Linked DNA regions of Homo sapiens: region 1 is linked to region 2. The links come from fine-mapping of genetic effects on gene expression. A gene starts in region 2. The other region holds a variant in brackets. All regions are shown on one strand. Distances are between the middles of the regions. Region 1 overlaps NFASC (neurofascin). Region 2 holds the start of CNTN2 (contactin 2).

The links. PIP is the estimated chance that this variant, and not a neighbour inherited with it, causes the effect.
Region 1: its variant is fine-mapped to the expression of CNTN2 in cerebellar hemisphere (GTEx, PIP above 0.99).

The regions. Positions count from the first base shown.
Region 1 is chr1:204,987,094-204,996,182 of GRCh38, forward strand. NFASC (neurofascin) reads left to right here. Exons shown (of 30, transcript NM_001005388.3): 22 at 325-447; 23 at 1,540-1,713; 24 at 4,199-4,213. Among named protein-coding and RNA genes, the nearest start is that of CNTN2, 52 kb to the right of the region's middle. RefSeq lists an enhancer at 2,542-2,631. The variant G/A (reference allele first, on the strand shown) is at 4,709.
Region 2 is chr1:205,038,661-205,047,749 of GRCh38, forward strand. CNTN2 (contactin 2) reads left to right here and starts at 4,552. Exons shown (of 23, transcript NM_005076.5): 1 at 4,552-4,734. RefSeq lists enhancers at 4,246-4,390, 4,338-4,482, 8,549-9,053 and cis regulatory regions at 4,318, 4,410.

The sequences.
Region 1 (9,089 bases), 52 kb before region 2:
CAATTTCGAGGTATCTTTGCAGAATCAGAGCCTAACATGTGCTGAATCCAGAGTAGTTGCTAGAAGAAAACCTGATTTACTTCTTCCTCTCTTAAATAGCAGAGTCTGAGCTATGTTTGTCCTCAGACCTGAAGGAAATAGCATCCTGGATGGGGCAATGGGCTCCGGTCGTCTCACGGTTCTCCCAGGCTTCAGTTTAGCAGTGTCGAGCATGGGGGTTGTCCAGAGGTCAATGCCTTCATACTTGTGCTTTGTTTTTTGTGTTTTCCTCATCCTCCCTGCCCCCTCCCCCTCATCTCCCCTGCTCTCTCCTCCTTCCCCAAGTACCCAGTGCCCCTAGGCGTTTCCGAGTCCGGCAGCCCAACCTGGAGACAATCAACCTGGAATGGGATCATCCTGAGCATCCAAATGGGATCATGATTGGATACACTCTCAAATATGTGGCCTGTACGTTCTGCCCTTCCCTTTCTCTTAGATAATCTGGGAACCAGAAACCCCATTCTCACCACTTTTCCTAAGGACTCAAGGTAGAAAGCCTGTGGGTGCAGATGGCATTGTGGAGGGATGGAGGGGCCAACGAAACAGTTCCCAATAGGATTAGGGGAGGCAGATGGGACTCAATCCCTGCTCTCCTTTCATAGTTCTGCCTGCAGGGAGCTTCTAGTCTCACTGATGAGACAAAGGGACCTCCAGTCTAATGAAGCAGACAGCCATGCCTTTAGGGATCTTTTGTAGTCTCCAACACGTACAGAGTCTAGGAGAGAGAGTTCCTCAAGCTCTGGAGCTTCCACCTGATGGGGTAGATAGTATACTCACAGGAGTCCACAGTCAGGACACCCCTTGACAAGATGTCATTTATGATAAGGCAGCTGCATGTAGAGCTGCCCGGTGACTGTGGGGTGACCCGAATCAGGAGCCTGGGTTGGAAAGACCCCACCTCAAGAGCTCAGCATCACCATGCAGGGACAGGAGTGCCATTACATTTGAAACACTTTAGGCCTTCAAAAGTAGGTAACGTACCTCGTTAGGAAACTCAAAGAGCCAAATGTTGTGTTGTTAGCAATTTTAATAGCCAACTCTGTGCTTGTATGCTGTTCTGAATTGATCTCTGGACCAGACCCTTTCACCCTTTGAGGTCCATTGAATAGGCACTTTACAAAGGAGGCATTAAGAATCAAAAGGCCTAGTGGCGTTGTCCTAGTTCTGTTTGAAAGGAAGAAAGAAAGTGAAGAGTTTTGTCCTTGTTGAAAGGGCTTAAGAATATAAACGGAATCTTTCTGAATCAGCCACATAACTCTGCAGTGAGCTAGAGACAACAGGATCAGTGAAGAAGGATTAACCCTGGGTGTAATCAAAGAGCCCGGAGGGAGTTCTTGCCGAGTGTTCTGCCTTTGAACCAAGCCTTTAAGATCACCAGGCAGGTGCCATCATTTCCCTTTCCAGCAAAGTCAGGAAAGTGTTCTTCCTCCAGCTTGCAGATTATATAACCCATCAATAAATGTTGCTAAAGTTTAATTCCACTTACCTCTCTCTCCCCAGTTAACGGGACCAAAGTAGGAAAGCAGATAGTGGAAAACTTCTCTCCCAATCAGACCAAGTTCACGGTGCAAAGAACGGACCCCGTGTCACGCTACCGCTTTACCCTCAGCGCCAGGACGCAGGTGGGCTCTGGGGAAGCCGTCACAGAGGAGTCACCAGCACCCCCGAATGAAGGTAGGTGCATGGCAGCAGCCCCTGGGGTAAAAGGTCCCAGCTAATTCCGAGGCCTAGAGAAACACTGAGATCTGTAGCTGGCTGCCTGGGATGGAGAGGAAATGAGACTTGCAAGTCCTCAAGCCCTCGGAAGGTGAGAACCCATCTTATGTGTGAGAGGTAGGTGCTGGCATTGTATCTGGAGCTCAGCTCTCCTTGGACCACTGTGGTCACACCTGGGTCCCCACTTGCCCTGACTTGCTCAGTCACTTGACATCTATCATCTTTCCTTCTTGTAGAGGAATAAGGAAGAGAGCATGAGTTGAGAAATGAGAGAAATCATAATGAACTCCAAAGAACAGTGAGTGTTCACCTCTTGAGGGAGGCAGGAATATGATTGTGAGTGCTCCCATGAGGGCTCTGGGGACAACCTTCTTTCTTCGAAGGCACATGGGTTCAAGGAGGTAGGGGAAACCGTCAGGATGACGCTGTTACTGGCATCATGAGTAGAGCAGAGAATGTGGTCCTTCCTTGCAGCCTGAATTGGATGCGTTGTCAGGCTGCAGAGAGGAGGAGGAGTTAGGAAACAGCCATTTGCCAAGCCAGCTTCACAAAGAGCAAATGAGTTCATCACCTGGGTCCAGGCGTCATCTGGCAGCATTTCAGCCCCACCAGAGCTGCACCTGCCTGAGGACTCCACTAGAGGGGGCTCCAGGCTCACCCGCACACGCACTGGCATCAGGGGAATGTGCAGTCTGGGACCTCTCGAGGAGGCAAGGCTGCAAAAGCCTCAATACTGGCACACCCTCTGGGAAAGGCTGGGGACCCCCGTGTGTCTCCAGAGATACAATGGTCTATTCAACAGCCATTTCTTGAGTACCCACAATGTGAGGTGCCAGACACTGCCACACACAAGGGATATACAAAGGTAACAAGAAGCTCACACCATCTAGAGGGGGAGTCATCTATAAGAATATCTAATTGCATGTCTAAATGAGGGGGCGCAGTGGCTGGGCAGAGAAGGGGATTCAGTCTTCACGGGAAGACTCCAGAGAAGAGGTGATGTGAGTGGGCACTCTGGAAGCTGACAAGTCATCGTGTCTGGTGCTTTCCACAGAAGGGTCAGGTCCCGTGGCCTGGCCCAGGCCCAGACGGGGTCTTCTGAATACCACCCCTACCCGCATTCCAGGAGAGCATCAGTGCTGCCTTCTCTGGGGCTACCAGGCCCGCTGCGTCACCCCGGGATCCCAGGCAGCTTCACAAGCTGCCCACATCCTTCCCCAGCCCACCACTCTAGCCAGTAGACCAGCGCTGAGGCAGGAGAAGAGGGGCCAGGCAGAAGCAGAGAAAGGCTGACAGCCCGCTCTGCATCCCTCTCTGGTCTCAGAAACCAGGAGTGAGTCACACAACCAGCTCTCCCTCCTGCTGTGCTCTTCTGCACTCTCCCAAGCCCCTGGGCACTCGGGAAGTTTATTAGGGCAGGGGGACTTAGGTTAGTGGCTGATGTGTGTCTGTCACCAAAGGCCAGGCCAGGCCAGGCCATGATGCACTTTCTTGATTACTCAATTCTGCAAATAGATAGATAAAGAGAGCCCCTTCTTCCCTCCCTATGTGCACCCCAATACAGAACATCAGATAACAAAGCCCTATTGTCCAGCCCCAGTAACCACCACAGAGAATGTTCTGCAGCCCCAGGGGACAAAAGGACAAATAGAGGCTTTTTTCTTAACTTAGGGCTTTGCAGAAAATTCAAGAATTTCACTTAGGGCTCTCAGTCCAAAAAAAAAAAAAAAAGAAAAAGAAAGAAAAAAGAAAGGGCTCTCAGTCCAAACTTGGGTTTCTAACTTCATAAAGTCCAACTGGAGGGGAAGAATTGGAGTGACGGAATACCAGGAGAGGGGCTCCAGGCTCCATCCTTCAAAGTTCCCGCCTTCCAAGGTTGCGATGGTGTGGAGTGGGTGCAGCTGAACATGCTCCCTCTCTCCTATCCATCCCACTATTCAGCATCTTCCCCCAAAGACAGGAACCATCCTTTTGACTGGAGTTGGTGTCCTCCCACACCACCTACTCCTTATCCCCTCAATTCCTGGCATCATGGAGCGTCACCCAGCCTGCTCAAAGGTCATGCCAACCTAGCCAGAGCAGGACATGCTGTTGAGGACAGAGCTGGGAACATAATGCTCTGAGTGGACTGTCCCTGCAGCCACCTTTTAGATGTCCAGTCCTTGAATCGAGGTAGAAACAGTGTGTTAGAAAGGTCTCCAAGGCCCAGGTGGAAAGGTTTCTGTAGGAACATGCCTGACTCAGGTGGAGTTGACCGTGAACCCTGAATGCCAGTTGGCATCCTCAGGCCAGCAGCCAGCACCTGGCCACGCCGTCTGCATAAGGTTTGGGCTGGAACCTTCCCTGCTTTCCTTGTCCTGTGGTCTCACTTGTGCTCTGTTTTCTCTTCCCTTTTCCATCCTTTCTCCCTCTGTCTGGCCATCTTGGGCGCTGTGTTCTGAAGCTACTCCAACCGCAGGTACCGTACCAGCCGCGGAGGTAATGGGCATGGCATGGGGCAGCGCAGGCGGAGCCCAGCCCAGCCAGGGCGGACAAGGAGGGAGAGGCTCAGGCTGAAAGCATGCTCCAGACTCACCCTTTCAGTGGTTGGGAAGCCAGACTGTCAAGAGGGATGTGTGTGGAGGATGGGACCAGAGGAGAGCAAGCCCACTTTCCCCCCTTCCCAAACTATTTGCCCCCTGCTGAGTAGGAGAATGGCTCAGCAGGGGTCACACACACACCGGCCCTGACCTGCTCTCTGGAGCTGCAGTTTCATTCTGACACTGAGTAGATTACTTCCCGTTAACCACCTGAGTCCTTGCCTGGGCTTGACAGCTCAGAGCAGTGTCCCCAGCTGTGGCCCTAGAAGGCGCGCTGCAGCAGGAGCAGGGACAGCTGGCTCCTGGTGGGGCTGCCATCTCCTGAAAGGGTGAACATGCTGTGCATGCCAGCTTCGCATGCTGCATGGGGGCCC[G/A]GCACCGGCTCTGCCAGCCACCACGGGCTCTGCTCAGTGAGAACAAGCAAGCATGTCCATGGATAGGGCCAGGTGCTCCAGTTCCTGGAGTCTCAGCAGGCACCGTGGGCTGATTATCTCCTCACCCTTCAGAAACCCAGCTTTTCCAAGTCTTTATCGTTAAGAACAGTCTCCACTCTCGGGGTATGGGAGGTAGATCTACAGTGGACTAAGGTGCTGGGCAGCTCTGGGCTTAGGACCTGCTAATCAAGTTACTCCTCTCCAGTCCTCATGTCATGGGTTTGAGGGTCATCAAAGGGCTCTTCATCACAGTTGGCCTGTCCCCAGGCTGGAGAAACGAGGCAGGGGACCCCAGGGTTCCTTTCCAGGCCCTCCTCTGAGCCTGAATTACATCAGATGGGAAATGAGAACAGGATTCACCCTGGCAGAGCAAAGGCTACAAGCAAGTGCTCAGCAGAGCCTCCTTACATGCCAGGCAGTGGAGGGAGGGCTGAGGACCGGGCCAGGAATCTGAGGGTTGGCTTATGAAGGGGATGCCACCTTGCCCAATTCGATTTCCTCCTCGCCTTTGCTTATTCATCCCCACCCCCATCCTAGGTTGATTCTATTTCTGTTGCATACCCTGCTTCCTTCAGTTTGTGTATGTTTTGCGGCCAGATCTGTGGATGGTGAGCTGCCATCATCCTTCCCTCTCTCCCTCAGTCCTCAACATTCACCCACCACCCCAGTGCCTCCCCACAAGGTCTGAACACCCCTGTGAAGATGTGAGGCAGAGAGGTGATCCCAGGCCTGGGGAACAGGGTGAGAGCCATCCTTGCCACACTGGGGGCCTCCCTGACTTCCTGCTTGAAGTTTACGTAAGTCTCTCCCGTGACGAAGAGGAAACGCAGGGAGGGCACCAGGCGAATCAGCTGCAAGCTCAATGGGGAAGCAGCTCCCCGTCCACCTCCCCTGTTCTGGCACCCTGGGACCCAAGGCAGGTGGGCCTGGTGGCAGGCAGTCTGTCTTGTTCAGTGGGCATCTGTGCCGGCCTGTGCTGTCCCTCTACTGAGTGGGTGAGAGGTATCTTTGCAATCACCCCACTTCCTACTTCCCATTTAGAAAAGATCTACACTCATCCAGCATGAGCTCACGGTCTCAATCAAATGTTTCCTGGGCTCCAGCTTCCGTGTGACATGGCAGTGGAGGCAGATTGCACTTTTTTGGAAATGAGATGTGCTGATAACATCAGCTGTTCTCAGCTTTAAATGCGTAAGAACCTTCTGCACAATGAGCAGGTGCCAAGCAACGAAACTCGGGTTCCATGTTTCTGACGTGGGCCTGGCGTCCGGCCCACTGCTGTCTTCCCTCTCGTCCTCTCCAAACCTGGGCACTATTTCCCCAAACTGCCCTGTTCATCTCTCACCCAGTGAAGATAATCCCTCTCATCCACCTGTATCTGTAGTCTCTTAGGATTGCTGCCCGTCTGTCTGACAATCTGTGATTTGGCCGGGGTAGTCAACACGCCATGTGGACATTTTTGGACTAAACCTTCCACCTTGGAATGTAAGGAAGTGCTGTTCTCTTCTTTGACCCAGCTCAGGTCTGCAAATGTTTGGTGGGCTCTTGATAGGTGCCCTGTTCCGTGGCAGGTTCTGGGACAGAAAGATGAATGACACATGTCATCTCTCCTCAGTGTTCTCCATCTCATGCATGGTGCTCCCTGAAACCCACCTGGAAAACCCTTGGCCGCAGCCAGGGTGCCTTCCAGTGTGCATTAGGTCACAAACCTGTGAGGTTGACGCTGCCATCTAGGAAGGGCCTTGTGCTTCCAGCCGAAGCCCACTCAGGATCCCCCCTTAGCTAACAGAGAGTCTCTGCCCGCTGTCCTTGGTCGCCAGGCTGATGGTCTCCACTGAGCACTGGCCAGGATTGCTTCCAAACCTGTAGCTCCTATTGCGGCAGGAAATGACATCCTAGCCCAGTCATGTGTCTGCCCAGCCTGGTGCTGCTCTGTTGGTAAGCCCTACTTCTCAGCTTCGTTGCTCTTCTATCCTCTCCTCCACCTCAGCCCCAGGGGATGAAATAATCTGAATCTCCTTAGACCTGAGCAGTGGAAGGTTTTCCCCATGGAACACTTGTCCTCCTCTCGTTCCCACCTGTACTAGCCCCCTGACAGCTCACTGCCTGACTCTTCTGCACCTTCCCTCGGAGGCTTTTCTTCTTTCCTCCACCCTCCCTAGCTCTCTGGAGGCCCTGTCTTGCCTTGGGACAATAGACACAGCTAATGAGTGGGTCGGAGATGTGCCAGCAGTGACCTTAGCCAGCTGAGGTTGTATCCTCTATGGTAACTTCAATGGTGGGAGCCCCGGGGAGGCTGCCGGAAAGTGACCCCTTTCCTCTCTCTCATCTCTTGCTCCCTCTTACTAAGCCTGAGCCAGACAGGAAGCAGCTAGGTAGCCATCATCAGAGAAAAATGCTTCCTTTCTGCCACACTTGGCAGAAGTGGCCATCAGGGGAGGGGACAATGCAGTGTAGAAACATCTTCAGAGCCATCTCTCATCCTTACCTCTGCCCAGCAGGGCCGGTGAGGAAAATGCTGTCACCTGGGCTCTCTTGACACCTCTGTCCCCCAGCTACTCACTGGAACATCCTGGGAAGTGTGTGCCCCCAGCTATGGCCCTGTTGGGGTATGAGTGTGTGTGTGTCTCTGCGAGTCTGAGGGCCACATGAGAGAGTGTAAAGCTTTGGGGAAGACTGACTTGGATTCTGGGGCCTGGGAAATGTAGCACCACTGCACCTGTAGGAAGGGAGGCCCAGGCTCCTGCACTACGCGGTGTGATGATTCAGGTTAAAAGGGAGTGTTTGCTTTTTTGTTTTGTTTTGTTTACTTGAGGCAGAGTCTCGCTCTGTCGCCCAGGCTAGAGTGCAGTGGCTTGATCTCGGCTCACTGCAACCTCCTCCAAAGGGAGTGTTTTCTAATGATGCCTTTTAGATAGTCATGAGAAGGGCTACCTTGTAAGCATTTGATTTGTCAGAAATTATTAGAAAATATACTATTGATAAGGAACTCCGGCAGGTGCACACTTTGGGAGGCTGAGGCTAGAGAATTGCTTGAGCCTGGGAGTTCAAGACCAGCCTGGGTTCCATGACAAAACCCCATCTCTACAAGAAATACACAAATTAGCCAAGCATGGTGGACCTGTAGCTGGACCTATAGTCCCAGCTACTCAGGAGGCTGAGGTGGGAGGATTGCTTGAGCCTGGGAGGTCGAGGCTACAGTAAGCCATGATCACACCACTACACTCCAGCCTGGGTGACAGAGCAAGATCCCGTCTCAATTAAAATAAAAAAAATCAGAGCAGTCCTGCCCAAGTAGACAAAATAATTGCTCCAGGTCTGTGCCAGCAGCACAGAGCAGCGGAAAGAGCCCATGTGTGTCTATGGCCATGAGAGCTGCAGGGAGCAGGCCTGGGAGAGAACTGACCTTTGCCCCATGGGTCTCTCAGGCTTTCCCATGTATGATGTGTGCACAGTGTGTGTGTGTGTGTGTGTGTGTGTGTGTGTGTGTGTATGTGTGTCGGTGGGTGGGGATAAGTGAATTCCCTCTTGTTGAGTGTTTTTAGTGCTGAGATTATATTCCAGGCCTGAGGCCATCCTGGACTGAGCACAGCCCTAAATAAAGAATCTGAGAGGGAGAGTTGCCCCACCGCTCACCCCTCCGCACGCCGCCCTGATGTCTGTGGGTTGACCGGGGTTTGGGGAGTATAGCATTGTGAGCTTTGAGCCTGCCCAGGAACCTCTGGAACGTATGGGGCATAGTCAGCTGCCCAGTGTGACTTCGGTGGCCAGCACCCTCGGGGCACAGTAGTACCTCTGATCTTATTAGCAGGGAAGCAGGAGTATTCCCTCCTTCTCCAAAGAGGGACTTGTAATTTTGGAGACCCAAGGGAATGAAAGGGCTTTTGCTGGGCAGGCTCTGGCTGAGAAGGCTTAGGATCACTTCACTCTCCCTTAAAAAAAGCTCTCTGGCAATTCTTTCTCTGGCATCCCTCCCTGCCCTAGCCCCTTTCTCGGGGATATTATTTTCCTGAGAGATTTGAGGCTGGGTAGGATTCCTTGGGAGTGAGAGTTAGCTGCCTGTGTTTTAAAGTCCCTGCCTACTGCCCCATTAGCGTCAACACTAGAAAGTGGAGTGCTGTCAGATCACAGGAGATCCAGTGCAAGGAGGAGAGGGGGCTTTGTCTCTCTCTGCTTGGCCTCATTCTCATACTCTCAGCTTTAGCAAATATTAGATCTGCGGGTAAGGATAGGGCAGCCCTTTCCATGACCTTCTATATCAGGAAAGAAGACCTGTGAAAAAGTTGTCACATACATAAGCTTAGCCCTCCCAAGCTGACCA
Region 2 (9,089 bases):
TTCCACACCAGCCAAATTGTTTCATAAAAAAAGAACTCAGGGTTCTTTGAGCTCTTTGGAGAGACCACATAAATGCAGGGCATTATTAGCATCATTACTATTAAATATTAATAATGACATTAGCATCATCTATTATAAGCCTGAAAAAGGAGCTGCAAGAGCCCTGGGTTGAAATGGCAAAGAGAATAATTAGGCCCCTCCAGGCCACAGACCCCTCTGGGCCCTCACATGAAATTAGGAAGGCAAATGCAGACAGGGCATTGAGATCTTCCTTCCAGCACCCCTGCTAGGTCAACTTGGCTTCTCCAGGCATTACACAAATCATGGCCTTCCCAGGCCCCACATCTTGGCTCCTGCCACACCACATGCCCCCATGCCAGAAACACATTCCCCACCTCCTCTCTGTCCATCCAGGCTCAATTCAAGATGCACCCACCCACCCCCACTGAAAGCTTCACCCACATCCTACCTCCCTCTCTCCTCATCCTCTGAATGGTTACTATAGCTACTCTCCTTCATTCATTCACCCAGTCAACAAATATTTATTGAGTCTCCACCATGCACCAGGCACTGTGCTAAACAGGAGGGTGGGGGACTGGGAGAATACGGACTGATGAGATAATCCCTACCTTTTGGACTGCATAGCTGAGGGAATGGCCATCAGTATTTGATATGGCACTTTGCAATTCAAAGTGCTTTTAAAAACCATTATGTTTAATTCACATATCCTCACTACCATCCTAGATAGGAGTAGGATCATTCCTATTTTACTGGTGAAGAAATGGATTATCTGGGCGATTAAGTGTCATTCTGTTACTTGCCCAGAGTCATCCAGGTAGGAGTGACAGAGCTGGGACAGAGTCCAGTTCTCTTGACTACAAATCCAGAGCCACCCCAACCACTTGCAGCCCTTACTGCTCTGCCTCATATCCTTGTTTTACAGATGAGGGAGGCTAAATCCCAAAAGGGAAATACTGACATTTATTGAGCACCTGCTGTGCTAGCTACTTCACGTGTAACTCAACACTCACATCAACTCAGTGAGGTATGTGTCTTCATCCCCATATTCTGGGTGAAGAGGTATGTGGCTTGCCCATGGCCTCACATCTCCTCAGTAGCAGGACTGGGTGTCAAACGGGTCTGTCTGCAGAGCTTTTCCTTATGGCCATATCAGTTTTCCCCAGAGCTGTGGATGGACAGTCCTGTTACCACTGTCACACTGCTTCCAAAAAGGTCACTGGCACTTTGAAGACCGCATCCCCTGGCTCTTGGATCCCTACATTCCAGGCAGAGGAGCTGCTCCATAAATACATGGCCTCCTGGGAAAAGGGTCTGGGCAAAGATGCTGGTGGCGGGAGAGGCCAGGAAAGGAGAGGTGAGGCGGGGGAGTGGTGAGGAAAGAGACAGCAAAGCTGCAGCATCCTGGGGCCATGGCAGGGTCTCATCTCCTCCCCACTTGTCCCCAGGGATGGGGCCTAGAGGTCCCTTCTTGATCGGTTAGAGACCCACTGGATTCCATTGCTATCAATCTTGTGTGGCTACAGTAGGAAGAAGCAGATGGTCTGGGCAGGGTTGGGTGGCCCTCAAAATGCTTTCTGATCCCCACCCACCACCACCAAGGGAGCACCACATGTTTGCGGACAAATTTATAAGCCATTTGACTAGCCACCTGATTATCTTCACTGGCCCTTTCTTGCCCTGTTTGAAAGTCTGTGGGGACTCAACTTTGAGATGTGGAGTCCCAGCTCTGGACAACATGGAGTCATATTGATCAGCCACAGAAAGGAGAGGTGGCCCTTATGGTCAGCTGCACTGAAGATTGTGGGCTCTGGATGTCACCAAAGAAGAAGAAACTGTTCTGCCCCCTATTTTGCCCACCTCAAAAGAACAGACAGTAGGTAGCTGGAGTCCATGGCACGGTGGCTAAGCCAGGATGCTGGAGGCCGATCCCAGGCCTCACTCTGTCATCTAGGCTGGAGTGCAGTGGCACGATCACAGCTCACTGCAGGCTTAACCTCCCAGGCTCAGGTGATCTTTCTACCTCAGCCTCCTAGGTAGCTGGGACTACAGGTGTGCACTGCCACACTGGCTAATTTTTGTGTGTTTTTTGTTGAGACGGGGTTTCGCCACGTTGCCCAGGGTTCCACTTGTTTACTATTTCTTTTGAGCAAGTTCCTTACTCTTACTGAGCAACATCTGAAAAGTGAGGATAATAACAACATGGACCTCTTGCGCAAGTAATTCAGGTAAAGCATTTAGCACAGCTCCCGGCATGTGGGAGGCATTCAAAACAGATATTATTTCTGTTATTATCAAGCTAATGGGCCCCACAAGCAAAACTCAGCCTGCACCCCCAAATGCCCACCCCACTCTCTCCTCAGGAACAGGAGCATCTCAGAGACTGGGAGTGCAGATCCCCCTAATCTCCCCAAACTCATTCATACTAGACTTCACTGAGAGCTTCAGACAAGTGAGAAGATGAGACTTTGGGAACTGTCTCCCCATCCAAGTCTAGGCTTGGCAAATGTTCTTGTTTTCACTTATTGTGTCTGCCAGAGTCCACATGGAGCATGCTGGTTGCATTGAGATCTGAGAGTCTTTAAGACCCAAGTCACCTGTGCTAACGACCCTCCCCAGAGACCCAGCTCCCACCACAGGGCAGCAGCTGTCCTAAAATAGAGTCACAAAGACAGCTGTCTCCGTCTAAAGCAATCCTTGCAAGCATTTCCAGACTGTTGGTTCCTGGGCCAGCCTATTTCCTGGCCCGTCAGCCCCCTGCAGCAGACATAGCATCCTTTTCTTGGCAAGGACTTGTTCCTGCCGTTTTCTGCTAGGAGAGAACTTGCAGAGCCTCTCTTTGGAGCCCAGGCTGACTTGAATGGTGCCAAAGAGCAAGGTTCACCTCAGGAGCTCAGAGCCAATGTGCCAGCCCTCAGACATACAGATAGGCAAGGACAGTGTGGGCAGGGGAAGGAAGGGAAAGATATCCTGGCAAGGGGTTGATGTGTCTGTCTATATAACAGCATTCAACATTATTTAAGAAACATCATTAGCAAAATCCAAGTCCTCCCCATCAGGAACAAAGAAGACTATCTCTCAAGTTGGGCAAGCCCTTTGGAGGGGCTCAGAAGGAAAGGAGGGGAGCGCATGTGGGACCTGGGCAGACATTCCAGCCTTGGAGGCTGAGCAGCAGAACCTCCCCGACTCCTTCTCCTTTTCCAGACCCTCTCATTCTGGCCCAGGTCCCCAGGACCTCCTCCACTCAGGGAGACATGGAGCCATGATCCAGGCTTGACAGGTATAGCCATTTAAAACTGGGAGGCTGGCCTGGCCCTGCCAGCTGTTGCAGCATCTGGACTGCTCACCGGTCTTGCCTGTGCAAGCTGGACAGCAGGCAGATCAGAGGGGGGTGAGACAACAGTGACAGCCTGACAGGGCCGACTGGTGCCGCAGATGGCTGGTCCCTCCGCCTCCGGGCCACAGCCTTCCTGGGCACTCCCCCACGTGACCGGAGCAGGGCAGGAGAAAGGCATCGCTGACAAGGGTGAGCACTTAGAATCTCAGAGCTGGCAGGACTGTGTCCATCTTTAATCCCTTCAGGTACCAGCGAGGCTCAGAGAGGGCAGGGCACCTAGCCAAGCACACACAGCCAGTCGGTTGTGGAGCCCAGAGTATGCTTCAGACACCCAGACCCCTAATCCAGGGAGCTTTTCATGACATCACACTGCTGGTTGCTTAAAAATGGGATTGGATCCAAACGTACTGATGCGTAAAAGTGTCCAAGATCAGTTACACAGTTAAAAGTCTTTGGCCAATCCTACTGTTTTATGTAATCACATTTGTGTGAAATAACCCTACTAACCCATGTAATTGTATACACGAAAATAATAAACCTGGGGGCATGTACTTAGATTTATTAAGAGTAGTGGTTGAGGGACTTTCACTATGTATTTTTAAATGTCCTCTAATATTTAGATATTTTGACAAAAAGCTCAAACTACTTTTGAACAAGGGAAACAATAAAGAGGAACATGGGGTGGACCGGGCAACAGAGACAGCCCCTCCCTGCCACTTGCCCCACACAGCAAGCTGGGATTTCTGATTTGGATCTCTTCCTCGGATAGGGGATTTCTGGGGAAACCAGGAGTTTTGGCTCCATGGGTCTCCAGGGTTTGAGGAGTAAGAGCCACTTTCTTTTCCCTCTTCACCCCGCCCCTCTCCTGCCCCTTCAGCCCTGGGCAGGGGGACTAGAAGTGGGGCTGGGCAGGATCGGGAGGGCAGGCGGGCCAGACAGCGCCCCGCGGCCTGTCCATGAGCGGCCCATGCATTATGGAAGACGCGCGCTGGGCTCGCTCCCTGGTCCTTAAATGACAGCAAATGAGGTAAAGCCAGGAGGGTGGGGACGGAAGTGGGGTGGGAGGGGGGCAGAAGGAAGCCATCTCCAGGGCCCCCGAGCGTTGGCTGAGGACCAGAGCCAGCCAGTGAGCGGAGCCTGGGAGAGGGAGGAGCACATCTTGATGCAGAGATGCTGCAGTGGCTCCGGGCGCGCTCACACACACGCGCCCTCACCCGCCACCGCCGCCGCGGCCGCCGCCGCACCCGGACAGCGAGCGGCTGAGGCCGCCAGGGCCCAAAGGACAGCGGCCCAGACAGGGGCTGGCGGCCCGGCCGGCCCCGGCTCACCGACTCGGGCAGCATCCACCTGCCCCAGCCAACACCCTTCTCTCGCCCCAGGTAGGTGCCAACCGCTTTTGTCTCCTCCAACCCAGGGACTTCCCTGCGTGCTGTTATGGGCCGGGGCTCCCGGCTCAGTTCCTGTAAATATCCCCCTTGTAACTTGGGAGGGAACAGGGACAGGAACACTGGCAGGCTGGGGCCGTTCTGACTTCTCCCCTCAGCCCCAGGGTGGGTGCTGGGGCTCCCCTCCGCCCTGTCTACGTGGGCGGCATCCCGCAGGGCTCTCTCAGGCCGAGCCTGGCCGAAAAGCTGGACCCCAGGAGTGTGTCCAGGAATTCCAGTTGGCCAGCGGGCAGTGGCAGCTGCCTGTGGAGAGGGCAGTTTCTCCTGGGCCGGCCCTGGGCACCCGGTCCAGGACAGGACCAGTCCATACAGCCAGGCCCTGGGCCCTGGCCTGCCCCAGAAGTCCCTGCATGGAATTGAGCCGGAGTCCCCAGTTTTGAGGTCACCCAGGGTCTACCTCTGCAGGGTGACCTCTTTGCAAAGTCTTGCTTCAGCTGGATGGAGAGGGGGGCTGTGGAAGAGAGAGGGGAGAGTGGAGCACAAGTTTGGGCAAGGGCCTGTCCAGGAACTGGGACTCGGGGAGGAGAGTCCTGAGGCCAGTCACATCCCAAAGGGCGAGAGGCTGGGGCTACCGGGCTGAAATTCCTTTCCTTCCCTTCCCCCTCCCAACCTTAGCTTCTCCTCAAATCCCTCCCCCCCATCCTCACTGGTGGGAGGGAAGAATTTGCACAAAGTTTGGCTTTCCAGTAAGGAAAGGGGCTGGGGCCAGAATGGTATGGGGAAGGGAAGGGGCAGAGCTGGGGAGTTCTGGAAAGAGAGGGCAATCCTTCTGCCCAGCACCGTGGGGCTTACATAATGGGCTGGAGGTGGGGGGCAGCCCCAGCCAGTGAGTGTCCAGAGCTGAATCCTGTCACCTTCTCCAAGAGGGTCTCTCAGGTCTGGGAAGCAGCGGGGCATGGAGAAGGCAGTGCCTATGGAAGGGGAGAATCCTGCTGCTACTTGGGGATGGAGACGGGCACCCTCTAGCCCCAGACCCCTGGGGGTTGAGCCTGTGTCCTGGGGGGGGGGGTCCAGTGAGGCCAGGAGGGAGTGGGGTTGTGCATGCCATGGCCCCAGCCCTGGAGAAAGGTGGGTTTCAGCATCTTTTCCCTCTGCTCAGAAGGAGCTGGGAGGAGGAACAGCCCAAGAAACCCAGTGCACAGGTGATGTTCTGGTCTCGTCTGGGCAACAGTTTCGGCCTCCTCTCCCAACCGTCTGGCCAAAGACGCCTCAGCTCACTTAGCCTCCGAGTCTCTCTACCTCCTGGTCCCACTCAGAGGGGCCGGATGAGCCACTGGAGATCGAGTGCAGCAAAAGGTGGGCCACCTGTGGGAGAGGCTGCTGTGATCGCACCTGGACAGGGAGATGGCCTGGAGGTCACAACAGGTGCCCTCACTCCTGGCCTTGGGAGAAGGGAGCTCTCCCCTTAAAGACAGCAGCATCCAAGCCCCTCCCCAGGGTGCCCACCAGTTAACCCCTTTCTAGCCAAGCTGCAGAACCATGGACAGGGCTTTTGCCACAAGGTCAGAGTCCTTCCTAATCTCCCGTGGAAGTCCTCAGCGAATAAGAGGGAGGCAGGAGGTGAGACAGACAGGAAAGGGCCCCTGACCTGATGATGTCAAAGTCACCCAAGGTCCACCTGCCTCACAGGTGCAGAGACCACTGTGCTCACACCATGAGCGGTGAGGGAAGCAGAGGCACACTCCTTATGCAGATGAGTGCCTCAGACTCCAGGAGTCTGCTCTCATTCCCGGCTCTTTCTCTCTTACTCTCCTCCCTTCCTCTACTCCTTCTTTCCTCGCACTCCCTTCTCTCATCGCGTGTACTCCACCGGCTTCAGCCCTCAGCCTCCCGCCGCCACCATTTCCCCTGCCAGATTTCACTCCTTATGCAACTCCATTCCAGCACCTTCTCTGCCAGCAGTTGTTCAAATAGAGACACATGTGGGATGGGCCTCCGAGGAATTGTGCTTAACGGGGTGATTGCACATCTCGTCTCTGGCTGACCAAACTTACTCCTTAGGAGCATGTACATAGACAGGTGTACCCCAAGGCATCCTTTCTGCCTCTAAAGTCACCAGGGAAGCAACGCATTTGGGGTGGTTTGGAGGATGCATGGTGCCCTCTTCAGAAACCTCCTTGAGCCAAACGTTGGTGAGAAAGCGTATTTCAAAGACAATCTCTAAGCCTGAGTGTGGGTGGTATTTGTATTTTTGGAGGGATTCCTAGGGCAGAACCAGGGGGTTGGAGAAGAGGTGATTGATATGCAGGGGAGGAAGAACCAGAGCAAAGAATATGCCAGGGAAGCCAGAGGGACTTAAGTTAGACTGCAGGAGACACTTCCTGGCTAGAAGAGTGAGCCATGAGGAGGTGGGGCAGTCTCCTTTCAGATGACTCTAAGGATGGTGTGGAGAACTGGGGTCTGGTCCAAGGTTAGAGAGTCCTGCCTAGAGGCAAAGGTTGGGCTGGCTGACCCTGTAAATTTCTTCCAACTTCTAGTAATCCTCTTTCAAATGGTAAAAGGTGGATGTGACTCAGGAATCCATAAGAAGGCAGACATCCTTTTCATCCCCTCATGCATGCTGGCCACCCCCTCATCCTTCAGGACTACAACCCCAATCTAAACAAACCACCCAGAGGCTGTTGCTAACCTGGAACATTTATGGGAGTTTCTGTGGGCTCCGTATCCTGACGGTAACCATCCTAGAGTAAGTCCTTTCTTAGTTTGATGATTCCTTGCTACAAGATTAGCCCATGTTTCTTTGTTTACCAAAGAGAATGCAAACAAAAGCAAGGAGTGTGATATTCTCATCCAAAACCTGAACACCTCCCATCCCAGGACACACTCAGGCCCAAACGCATCTCAGTGTCCTTTTTACCTAATGAGACATTCAGTTCACTACGTAGGTGGGGAAGTCAACCCCAGCCCCTCACACACACCCATCTAGTCAAACCTGCTGGGCTTCCTCCAGCCTAAGCCCACATCTTCTCAGTGCCTGCCACCCTGAACACCCTGACCAAGGGGTTCTCCCACCCTGTGCCTGGCTGGAGGGCAGCCTTCCTGCAGTGCTGCCCAAGAGGTGAAGTTAATCTGGACCCCAAATCCAAAGGAAACTAGCTTGAGAGGAGGAGCAGGTTGGACCTCACCCCCACCAGGCTTAAGCTCTGAGCCACCCTGGAGGAAGCTGTCTAGGAACTGGGGGGAGCCTCCTTGCAGCAGAGTTGGGGGACAAGCAGAAATTGCTCTGCTAATGCACGAGGAAATTTTCTTCCTGATTTGCTTTTTCAGAAACAAGTTGAAACCATTGTTCTTACGCCTGGCATCTCAAAAAGGGATCCTTCTAAAGCCCTCACTCACTGCCTCACACCACACACAGAGCAGGGCAGGCAAGTAGGAAAACCTAAGGTCTGGGGGTGGCTGGCTTCTGATCCTGAGCTTCCCAGGAGGATGGAAGCCTCTCTTCTTCTGTCCACTCCCTACTTTAAAGGGTCTCTCTGTTAGAGTAGGTCTCTCTTGCAGGGGCAAAGACTCTAGGCTCAGATCAAGGGCCAGACTCCCCCCTGCCCAATGCTAGAAGATCAAACAAATCCATGAGCCTGGGAGCCACAGCTCTCCCCAGAGGGCACGTCAGCACCAGGGCTGGGCCTCGGGGAAGCAGCTGCAATCACAAAGAGCCTGCAGAGAGAGCTGAGCAGCTCACAGAGGGGACTAAGGAAGGACGGGGCTGCACGACACCCCTGGTCCCCATTGGGGCTGAGGAGGTCCCTATGTCCCCATTTCTGCCCTAAGGATGTCTCCAGCTCAGGGTACCACAGAGACCCCTCAGTCACAATCCTTCACCCCACCCCTGCCAGCTGCAGCCTGGCCTGGCCCGCTGAGATCCTAGCAGCCCTCACCCACGCCACCACAGAGCCCTGTACTGACCAGAGGGGCATGGGGATGGTTCAGACCTTCCTGGAGGATGATGGTGCTGTCCCAGGAGGCAATTCTTGTCTTAGGCAAAGGAAAAGGTACTGATCTTAGATCCCATCAGGCAGGAGGTGAGGGCTGTTGAGAAGGAGTACCTGCTTGGGAGTGCCTGTCCTGGCCGCGTGACCCCCTGAGCACATTGTACCAGGTATAACTCTGGCATGGGGGCTGTGTCCTTGTGCCCTAGTCTGGGGTGCTGTGCTAGTGCTTACCTATGACCATTGCACCTTTGAGGCGTAAGAGGAGGGAGGCACCTGCCCAGGAGATTGTGGGTTTGTCAGTCTCCTAAATACATATGAGTGCCGCCTGGACGTTGTGACTGTATAGAAGTAAGCCAGACA